Regions from separate parts of the Homo sapiens genome. Here region 1 is linked to region 2. Evidence: fine-mapped expression QTL. A gene starts in region 2. The other region holds a variant in brackets. All regions are shown on one strand. Distances are between the middles of the regions.

Region 1 (5,526 bases), 96 kb before region 2:
CTTTTGGAGGCCGAGGCAGGCGGATCACCTGAGGTCGGGAGTTCAAGACCAGCCTGACAAACATGGAGAAACCCTGTCTCTACTAAAAATACAAAAAATTAGCCGGGCATGGTGGCGCATGCCTGCAATTCCAGCTACTCGGGAGGCTGAGGCAGGAGAAACACTTGAACCCGGGAGGCAGAGGTTGCAGTGAGCTGAGATCGCATCCAGTCTGGGCAACAAGAGTGAAACTCCATCTCAAAATAATAATAATAATAATAATAATAATAATAAATCAGGGTTAGGGTAAATTAAGTGAATTTATCATTCACTAAATGTATGACCTTGGGTAAGTAATGTATTCTTTCTAAACCTTTGTTTTATCATCTGTAAAATATAGATAACAGTATCTACTTCTTAAGATTCTTATTAAGTTATTCTACATTATGGCTTAGCAATGTGTTTCACACATACTAAGAATTTAAAATATTAACTATTATTATAATAGTAACTATTTGTATAATTCTAAATACATAATTATATATTTTTATAATTTATAACTATTATAATAGTAACTATTAGTATAATTATAATACATAATTATATATTTTTATAATTTATTAATTTATAATATTTTAATTATAAATTATATATACTATATATAATTCCCTTAAGGGAGTATCAGCAGGAATTATTGCCACATCGATTTAGCTATTGATGCTGAAGTGGTAGCTTTAGATCCACCTTGGCTAACATCAGAAAGTTCAACCTACAAATAGAAGTAATTTAAAAGAAATTTTAATTGAGTAATTTATTCTAAAGTACTTTAAAAATTGGTTAAGAAATAAATTTGCCCAGAGAAAGTCACAATTTTTTTAAAAGGCAATAAAGAGTCACCGATTATCAATAAATAATCTCTCTAGCTCCTCTGCAAATAATTGGGAAATATTTAAGTAAATCGTATTTTTCCAGGCGTACATGAAATTCTTCTTTTTTTTCTAAGACAGAGTCTCGTTCTTGTCACCCAGGCTGGAGTGCAGTGGCATAATCTCAGCTCAATGCAACCTCCACCTTCCAGGCTCAAGCGATTCTCGTGCCTCAGTCCCCTGAGCACCTATGATTACCGGCGTGCGTCACCATGCCCCACTAATTTTTTGTATTTTTGGTACAGACGGAGTTTTGCCACGCTGCCCAGGCTGGTCTCAGATGCCTGGCCTCAAGCGATCTGCTGGCCTCAGCCTCCCAAAGTGCTGGGATTACAGGCGTGAGCCATTGCGCCCAGCCGATTTTTCTAAATAGAAAATTTGAAAATACAATACGAAAGGCATTAGCAGCCAGGCTCGGTGGCTCACGCCTGAAATCCCGACATTTTGGGAGGCCCAGGCAGGCGGATCACCTGAGGTCAGGAGTTTGAGACCAGCCTGGCCAACATGGCGAAACCCGTAATCTACTAAAAACACAAAAATTAGGCATGGTGGCAGGTGCCTGTAATTCCAGCTACCCGGGAGGCAGAGGTTGCAGTGAGCTGAGATCGCACCACCGCACTCCAGCCTGGGGGATAGAGCGAGACTCTCTCCAAAAAAGGAAAAGCATTAGTGATAAAATTACACACTGATGTCAACATCATTTTAATGGCAGTTGCAATACTGTATCACTATTAATTACAGTATATTGTACATATTAATTATAATATATTGTACAATATATTTTACACAACATATAAAAATAAAATAGCATATCCATGTTAAGAGTACAATACTTTGGCCAAGCGTGGTGGCTCATGCCTGTAATCCCAGCACTTTGGGAGGACGAGGCAGGCAGATCACCTGAGGTCAAGAGTTCGAGACAAGCCTGGCCAACATGGAGAAACTCCGTCTCTAAATCAGCCGGGCGTGGCGGCACACGTCTGTAATCCCAGCTATTAGCGAGGCTGAGGCAGGAGAATCACTTGAACCCAGGAGGCAAAGGTTGCAGTAAGCTGAGATTGCACCATTGCACTCCAGTCTGGGCAAAAAGAGCAAGACTCTGTCTCAAAAAAAAAAAAAAAATTGTACAATACTTCATGTATGCCTGTAATCCCAGCTACTTCGGAGGCTGAGGCACAAGAATCGCTTGAATGGCCTGGGCAACACAGCAAGATCCCATCACATAAAACAATAATAATGTATTGTACACTTAAAATTTTTAGAGGGTAGATCTCATATTAAATGTTCTTACCACAATAAAATAAAAAAGGCTGAGGCAGGAGAATCGCTTGAACCCAGGAGGCAGAGGTTTCAGTGAGGCAAGATTGCGCCACTGCACTCCAGCTTGGGCAACAGAGCAAGACTTCATCTCAAAAAAAAAAAAAAAATTGGCCAGGTGCAGTGGCTCACGCCTGTAATCCCAGCACTTTGGAAGGCCGAGATAGGTGGATTAGTTGAGGTCAGGAGTTCCAGACCAGCTTGGCCAACATGGGGAAACCCCGTCTCTACTAAAAATACAAAAATTAGCCAGGCATGGTGGCACATGCCTGTAATCCCAGGTACTCAGGAGGCTGAGGCAGAGGAATCATTGAACCCAGGAGACGGAGGCTGCAGTGAGCCAAAATTGTGCCACCACACTCCAGTCTGGTGACAGGGTGAGACTCTGTCTCAAAAAAAAAAAAAAAAAAAAAAAAAAAAAATGCTATTTTCTTGAATTGGTAACTGGCACCCAATATAAAATATAAAAGTATCTGATAGAAACCTACTAATTCCAGCAAATTCATTTGTTTGGAGTTGAGTCAAAAAGACTGACAGTATTAAT[TA/T]AAAAAAAAAAAAACTGACAGTATTTAACACCTCTGGAGCCAAAGAGATTGATAGTGAAAACAACTACAAGTCCCTCTGAGCACCATTTGCATTGTCTTTGCTTTGATGTATACTCGATTAAAAAATAAGTGGTATTTGGCTGGACACGGTCGGCTCATGCCTGTAATCCCAGCACTTTGAGAGGTTGAGGTGGGCATATCACTTGAGCCCAGGAGTTTGAGATCAGCCTGGGAAACCTGGTGAAACACTGTCTCTACTAAAAATGCCAAAAATTAGCCCAGCATGGTGGTGCACGCCTGTAGTTCCAGCTACGAGGAATGCTAAAGCATGAGAATCGCTTGAACCCAGGAGGCAGAGGCTGCAGTGAGCTCAGATTGCACCCATGTTATCATGTACATGAATTCTCATTCTTTAAAAGTTTCAAACGTAACACACATTAAAAAATATAAAATAAACAGTCTGTATTTCTGATAAACAGTGTTGATGAAAGCACTTAAAACCCATTAAGACGGCGGATTCAGAAAGCCCTAGAGAATATTGAGTTCATCTATATGAGAAAGTGATATGCCTTTGAAACTATGTCAAAAATAAATAATTTGAGGTCAATCTTGGAATTCTCATTTACCTCTTAAATATAGAGAAATTATTTCTTCTTCCTCCTTATTATTCCAGTCCCCCACTCCCCACAAAAGGCAGGTTATTTTCACCTCAGAAAAAATTGTATTTAGTAATTTAAAAGTTCACAACATATGAAGTGTGGCAAAGGCCTACTTTCCAAATTCATTTGTGGATCTGGGAGCATGAAATAAAATAACCAGGAGACAGTCTAGATATCATGGGGTGAAAAGAGAAAAAAAAAAAAAAAAAAAAAAAAATAACCAGGAGAGAGCTGAACCTAAAACAGGAAAGGGACCATGATACCTCAGCAATCCCAAGGTTTCAGGCTACAAGGAAGTGGTTAATTTAGATCTACTTAGAAGAAAATTATGTTTTAAATTTATCCTAGGCTATCCAAATAAAATGAAATTTACTTATATGTAACTTACTTCCCTTTTATACTTACCACATAAAAATATTTTACACTCTTTAAAATAGCCCAATGTGTGGGCTATATTTCTGACAACTAGATCCCAGAGATACAGCATGAGAGCTGAGAAGGGAAAAGCTCTGATTTTAGGGGTTGAGCCCTTTTCTTTTTCTTTTCTTTTTTTTTTTTTTTTTTGAGACGAAGTTTCGCTCTTGTTGCCCCAGGCTGTAGTGCAATGGCGCAATCTTGGCTCACCGCAACCTCTGCCTCCCAGGTTCAAGTGATTCTCCTGCCTCAGCCTCCCGAGTAGCTGGGATTACAGGCATGCGCCACCATGCCCAGCTAATTTTGTATTTTTAGTAGAGACGAGGTTTCTCCATGTTGGTCAGGCTGGTCTCGAACTCCTGACCTCAGGTGATCCGCCTGCCTCAGCCTCCCAAAGTGCTGGGTTTAGAGATGTGAGCCACTGCGCCCGGCCGGGAAACCATTTTTGAAAGAGGTCTTTCTTCTTGGTATCCCAGGCAGTGGTGACATAAAGCTTCTAAGATTAGCAGAAAAGCACTTAGATGGGAAATCGGACAAAGTATTTGGCCAGGGGCACAATATTCTTGCATTATACCTCACTAACTGCCTCCAACTAAAGACAGAATGAGGCTAAGCACAGTGGCTCATGTGTGTAATCACAGCCCTTTGGGAGGCCAAGACAGGTGGATCACTTGAGGTCAGAAGTTTGAGACCAGCCTGGCCAACATGGTGAAAACTCATCTCTACTAAAAATACAAAAATTAGCTGGGTGTAGTGGCATATGCCTGTAGTCCCAGCTACCTGGGCGGCTGAGGCACGAGAATCACTTGAATCCAGAAGGGGGAAGAGGTTGCAGTGAGCCAAGATCATACCACTGCGCTCCAGCCTGGACAACAGAGCAAGACCTTGTCTCAAAAAAAAAAAAAAAATCATTGACCTGTTAAAAATTAAAATATACTACTTTTGGTCAACAGTACACTCATAAGATAATACGATCATGTGCCACATCTGCATAATGACATTTTGGTCAATAATAGACAGCATACAGCATATATAGTGGTGGTCCCATAAGATTAAAATGAAGCTGAAAAATTCTTGTTGCCCAGTGATGTTGCAACTGTCATAATATCCCAGTGCAATGCCCTAGTGTGTTAACAAAACTATTGCACTGCCAGGTGTATAAAAGTATAGTACATGCAATTCTATACAGTACATAATACTTGATAATGATAAACAATTATGTCACTGGTTTATGTATTTACTAAAATTTTCATTGTTATTTTAAAGTATACTCCTCCTTCTACTTAAAAATAATAATAAAGTTAACTATAAAACAGCCTCAGGTAGGTCCTTCAGGAAGTACTCTAGAAGAAGGCACTGTCATCATAGGAGGTGATAGCTCCATGTGTGTCATTGCTCCTGAAAACTTTCCAGTGGGACAAGATGTGGAGGTGGAAGATACTGACATTGATGATCCTGACCCTGTGTAGGCCAAGGCTAATAATATGTGTGTGTCTTGGTTTTTAACAAAAAAGTTTAAAAAGCAAAAAAAAAAAAAATTTTTTTTAAATAGATAAAAGCTTATAGAATAAGGATATAAAGAAAATATTTTCATAGAGCTATACAATGTGTTTGTGTTTTAAGCTAAACATTATTACAAAAAAATCAAAAAGGTAAAAAAATTTAAAGTTTATAAAGTAAATAAGT
Region 2 (5,000 bases):
GAAAAGCTCTTGAAATAGTCCATTCTGGCGGGGTGCGGTGGCTCATGCCTGTAATCCCAGCACTGGGATGGTCAGCCCGAGGCCAAAGTGGGCAGATCACTTGAGGCCAGGAGTTCAAGACCATCCTAGGCACCATGGAGAAATCCTGTCTCTACAAAAAACAAAAATGAGCGGGGAGTGTTGTCCTAGCTCCTTAGGAAGCTGAGGCACAAGAATCGCTTGAACCCGGCAGGCAGAGGTTGCAGTGAGCCAAGATCACTCCACTGCACTTCACCCTGGGCGACAGAGTGAGACTACGTCTCAAAAAAAAAAAAAAAAAAAGGCAATTTTGTTTGGCAAATTCAATAGCATTCCTTTGAGAAAATTGGATCCCACAATCAGAACTAAAAATCATCACTACAGTCAAGCTTTTAAAAAAGGAAAAAGAACTATTTAACCAGATGCAAAGGTATACGTGACAAAATAAAACAAAAATTTAATGGTGTTACTATTCAGTGTCAGGAAATGAGCTACAAACCTCACATCCTAAAAACTCTTCAAGTCTTTTTGAAAAATACTATGTCATTCCTTCAATAATTAGTTATTTCGCCTCCTTTGATCACCATGTATTTAAGCAGGTGTGCTAGGTGCTTGAGAAACAAAAATAGGACACATCACCTGCCTTTGATAAGGTCCACAGAAATAACGCCAACGCAGGCTGAAAGCTAAACTCCTTGTCAGTCTCAAGAAGCCAAGGACCTATCACTTGCACCCTAGAACTCCAAAAGGTTCACAGAGTCGAGGTGAGGGCGCCCAGGTCACTGCTCGGGTGCTAGAGTTAACAGGTGGCCAAATGCACGTATAAACAGCAGTCTAAGAAGGAAACTCAGACGGAAAAAGTGTTGCCAACTGTCACCTACATCTTCCCAACCCCGCCCCCCAATCCTTTTTATAAATAAACGGAGGGTTTTTGAAGGGAACTGTCCAAGGTTACAACCTGATACGGAGGAATGCTTTGGTTTGGGATACCAACGAAATTGTTTATATATTTATTGAGTACTGCCACACAACATCTAAAAGTTGACAAAGTGTCAACCAAGGCACATAGAACATAAAATAAGACGTCTTTCTCAACAAGATTAAAACGTCAAGAAGAAACTGACCGAAAGAGGGAGATCTCTAACTTCCCAAAGCAAGGCAACCCCCTGGAAAGGTACTGGAACTAGCGGAAGTTACATATCCAGGGCAGAAGTGTCCCCCTCCCCAAGGGTAAAACTTTGAACCGCCATCTGACTATCCCACGGTGGTCGGAAACTTCCCTCAACAAGAAGCAACCAGACACCCAACAATCTCCGCCCTTGGCCAACCCCAGGTGTCCTCAGGCCAGGCTGCCGCTTCCTCCCCGGGCCCTGCCTCCTCCATCTCGCTCCCTTCCCAGGACACTCAGTAGCCGGCCTCGGCTTCCAACGCCGGCCTGGCTCCCGGGGTACCTGGAGGCCGCCGGGATCGGTCCCAGGGGGCATCGGCCTCAGGCCCGCCCTCCAGGAGGCCCGTCGCGCCTCTAGTCCCCGACCGGGCCGCGACCCCGCCCCGGCCGCCCCCGGAGACGGATCCCGCGGCCCCCGCCCTGCCGCCGGCCTCACCTCCTCAGCGTGCTTGCGCAGCGCCTTCTCCCGCTCGTACTGGGTGATGAGCTGCTCGTTGTCGTCCCGCAGCAGCTCCAGCTCCACCTGGTGCTCCTGGTCCTGCGCGAACACCGAGTCCAGGTTCTCCAGCACAGCCACCACCAGCGGCATCAGCTCTTTGACCACCTCCTCGTCATAGCGCCCGATAAGCCGCTCGAACTCGCGGTAGATGGAGCCGGCCAGGCCGGACACCCGCTCCGACATCACGGCCCCGGAGCCGCCGGGCTCCTCCTGATACACCACACCGTCCTCCAGCTCCATGGTGGCAAGCGGACGGGCGGGCGGCCCGGGGCGTCGCCGGCAGAGGGGCGGCACCTGCCCGCACGGGACGGACCCGACTCGGGCTGGGACGGGTACTAGGGCTGGAGCCCGGGCCGGGGCTGGGGCTGGGCCCGGCGGGGTGGGGGCCGGGGCCGGAGGAGGGGAGGGGTGGCGTAGGCGCTCTCACCCCAACCGCCGCTGCACCAACTGCCGGGGCGGCCCGGCCGCGCGCGCCACACGTCATCCGCGGGGCGGGGCCGGCGCCGCGTCGGCCCGATGGGCGGGGCGCCGCGGGAGGCCAGGCGCGGCCGGGGGCGGGGCCAAGCGTCTTCGGGCGCTGGCGGAGGAAGCCATGGCGTCAACACCCGGCGCCGCGAAGACGGTGCGGGCGCCAATGGGAAAGACTGCGGTCGGCGGGTGGGGAGAAGTATCCATCCACAGCGGGATTCGCGGGGCGGGTCCCAGGGGAAAGGGAGGGGTTCGGGAAGAGTGACGAGTTAACTTAGCTGGCATTTCTATGGCTTTTTAAAGCTCACAAAGCACCTACTCACTTCATCCCCACAACAGGCGTAAAGAGGTAGATATTTGGACCTCGTTTCACAGACAAAGAAACTAGGCCCAGGAAAGTGGCGTTGCTCTCAAGGTCACGCAGCTACAACGGGAAACGGGCTGAGCCGGGACTCAAACCAATTACCCAGATTGAGAATTCCGGGCTCCGAAAAAAACTGGAAACAGAAAGGGAGGGAAAAAAAACCATAACCAGGGTCTGCCCAAGTGGAAAGGTGGTCTCGAATAGAATAGAACTGTTTTGTGCTATGGAAGAGCAAGGGTGAGATGAGGGGAAATGGGAGTGACTGCTAATAGGTATGGGATTTCGTTTTGGGATAATAAAAATGTTCTAAAAAATGTATTATAGTGATGAATACACAACTCTAAATATGCTAAAAGACATTCAACTTTACACGTTAAGTGAGTGAATCATATGGCGTGTGAATTATATCTCAAGTTATTAAAAAATAAACAGGAAGGGTGATAGCATTCTGGAGAAGGGTGAAACTGGAACGTTACATGTGGCACTTTCCCACATAGTGTGTCTGCTACTTCTGGCCAACTTGGGACGGGGACATTTCCAGGCTCCAGCCACCCTCCTCTCCTCAAGTCTTGAAGTGGGGCGGAAAGGGTAAGTGGGAGGTTGGGGAACAGAGGAGGTAAGGGGTGGAGTCACTGGAGTGAATAAGTCCCATGACAAGTGAGGTTTCTGCCGCCTGGGAGAGTGTCACGTGTGGGGAATGACACAACGCCCACGCCTAGAGCGGGCTGAGTCAAGGATCCCGGTGTGCTCATCTAACGTCCGCAAATGGGACGGAAGACACTCTCAAAAGTCCCTTCTCTGTGTCTCAGGTGACTCAGCTCTCCGTCCCGACTCGTTTAAGAAAAGGGGGAGGAAAGGCAGGATAAACATAGGTTTAAGGGGAGAATTGGCCACCCACCGGGATCATAACTACCCTTAGCTTGGGGTTTACAAGTTTAAGTACTTCCCACCAAGTATGAAGTAGTCCCCTAAAGTTTCCTACGCATGACCCACCTGGAGACCCATAAAAACAATATGAAGGTTGGGCAAGAGTAAACCTATAAATTTGGAAGGACAAAGATGAAAATACTAAGTCTTATGAAGTGCCAGATGGGACTGAATTTGCGGCCTGTGTTTTTTCCCGTTCTCACCCTCACCCCACATTCACCCTTATGTCATTTAGATATTTGGGTAGTAGGAATGCCGACCAGCTGGTTGGCTGTGAGCCGCAAATGCCCTTTCTCTTCTTAACCTTTCATATTTGAAAACTAGAAAAAGTCTTGATCTGAATCTCTCCTCTTTTATTTTCTCTTCCTGAGGGCTGTCACTCACCTGGTCTACCTATATGCATGCCTCTCTTTTCCTGGGGGATCAGAAGAGCCAAAAAACATAGGGCAAGGCTTTACTTTTTCTTTCCACAATATTATCATACACATCAAAAAATTTAAAGAAAAAAGTATCAGCCGGGCGTGGTGACTCATGCCTGTAACCCAGCACTTTGGGAGGCCGAGGCGGGTGGATCACAAGGTCAGGAGTTCAAGACCAGCCTGAACAATATGGTGAAACCCCATTTCTACTAAAAAGTACAAAAATTAGTCGGGCATGGTGGTGCACACCTATAATCCCAGCTACTCAAGAGGCTGAGGCAGGAGAATAGCTTGAACCTGGGAGGCGGAGGTTGCAGTGAGCAGAGATCACACCATTGCACTCCAGCCTGGGCGACAGAGTGAGACTCCATCTCAAAAAAAAAAAGAAAAAAGAAAAAAGTATCGATTTTTCAAGTACGAGATTTTAATTGTCATTCCTAATAAGTATACTTCTTTAGGTATACGTTCAACATAGAAAGATACACACTTATGTCTTGATTTTAAGCTTCTGCCAGTTATCAGAGATAACATTTAGTTAAAATAAAATTCAGCTAAATAACCATCAGCTGATGAATGGATAAAATGTGACATAGGTATACAATGGACTATTATTTGGCAATAAAAAGAAAGTCGTTGGAGGGGAGGGGAGTAGGCGTGGTGGCTCGCGCCTGTAATCTCAGCACTTGCAAGAGGATGGCTTGTGCCATGAGTTGGAGACCAGCCTGGGCAACATAGTGAGACCTTCATCCCTGACAAAAAAAAAAAAAAAAATTTTTTTTGGCCAGGCACGGTGGCTTACACCTGTACTCCCAGCACTTTGGGAGGTCGAGGCGGGCGGATCACCTGAGGTCAGAGGTCAGATGTTCAAGATCAGCCTGACCAATATGGAGAAACCCTGTATCTACTAAAAATACAAAATTAGCCGGGCGTGGTGGCCCGCACCTGTATTCTTAGCTACTCAGGAGGCTGAGGCAGGAGAATCGCTTGAACCTGGGAGGCGGAGGTTGTGGTGAGCCAAGATCGAGCCATTGCACTCCAGCCTGGGCAACAAGAGCAAAACTCCGTCTCCAAAAAAAAAAAAAAAGAATAGAAAAGAAAACAAAAATTTTAAGTACATGCCATGACATAGCTGAATCT

Alleles and levels. Alleles are on the strand shown, and positions count from the first base shown. SD is a standard deviation of normalised expression in the study named.
For the expression in naive CD8 T cells of the gene that starts at base 2,137 in region 2, allele T in region 1 goes with a higher level than allele TA (moderate effect, 0.53 SD a copy in Schmiedel 2018).

What was found. PIP is the estimated chance that this variant, and not a neighbour inherited with it, causes the effect.
Region 1: its variant is the best candidate, but not a certain one, in a credible set for the expression of SPAG9 in naive CD8 T cells (Schmiedel 2018, PIP 0.79).

The regions. Positions count from the first base shown.
Region 1 is chr17:51,022,703-51,028,228 of GRCh38, forward strand. All of the region lies in intron 6 of SPAG9 (sperm associated antigen 9), which reads right to left. Among named protein-coding and RNA genes, the nearest start is that of SPAG9, 95 kb to the right of the region's middle. The variant TA/T (reference allele first, on the strand shown) is at 2,767.
Region 2 is chr17:51,118,732-51,123,731 of GRCh38, forward strand. SPAG9 (sperm associated antigen 9) reads right to left here and starts at 2,137. Exons shown (of 30, transcript NM_001130528.3): 1 at 1,623-2,137. The coding sequence starts at 1,925. RefSeq lists silencers at 1,390-1,519, 1,540-1,619, 1,870-2,249 and enhancers at 1,650-1,769, 2,059-2,873, 2,390-2,619, 3,229-3,488.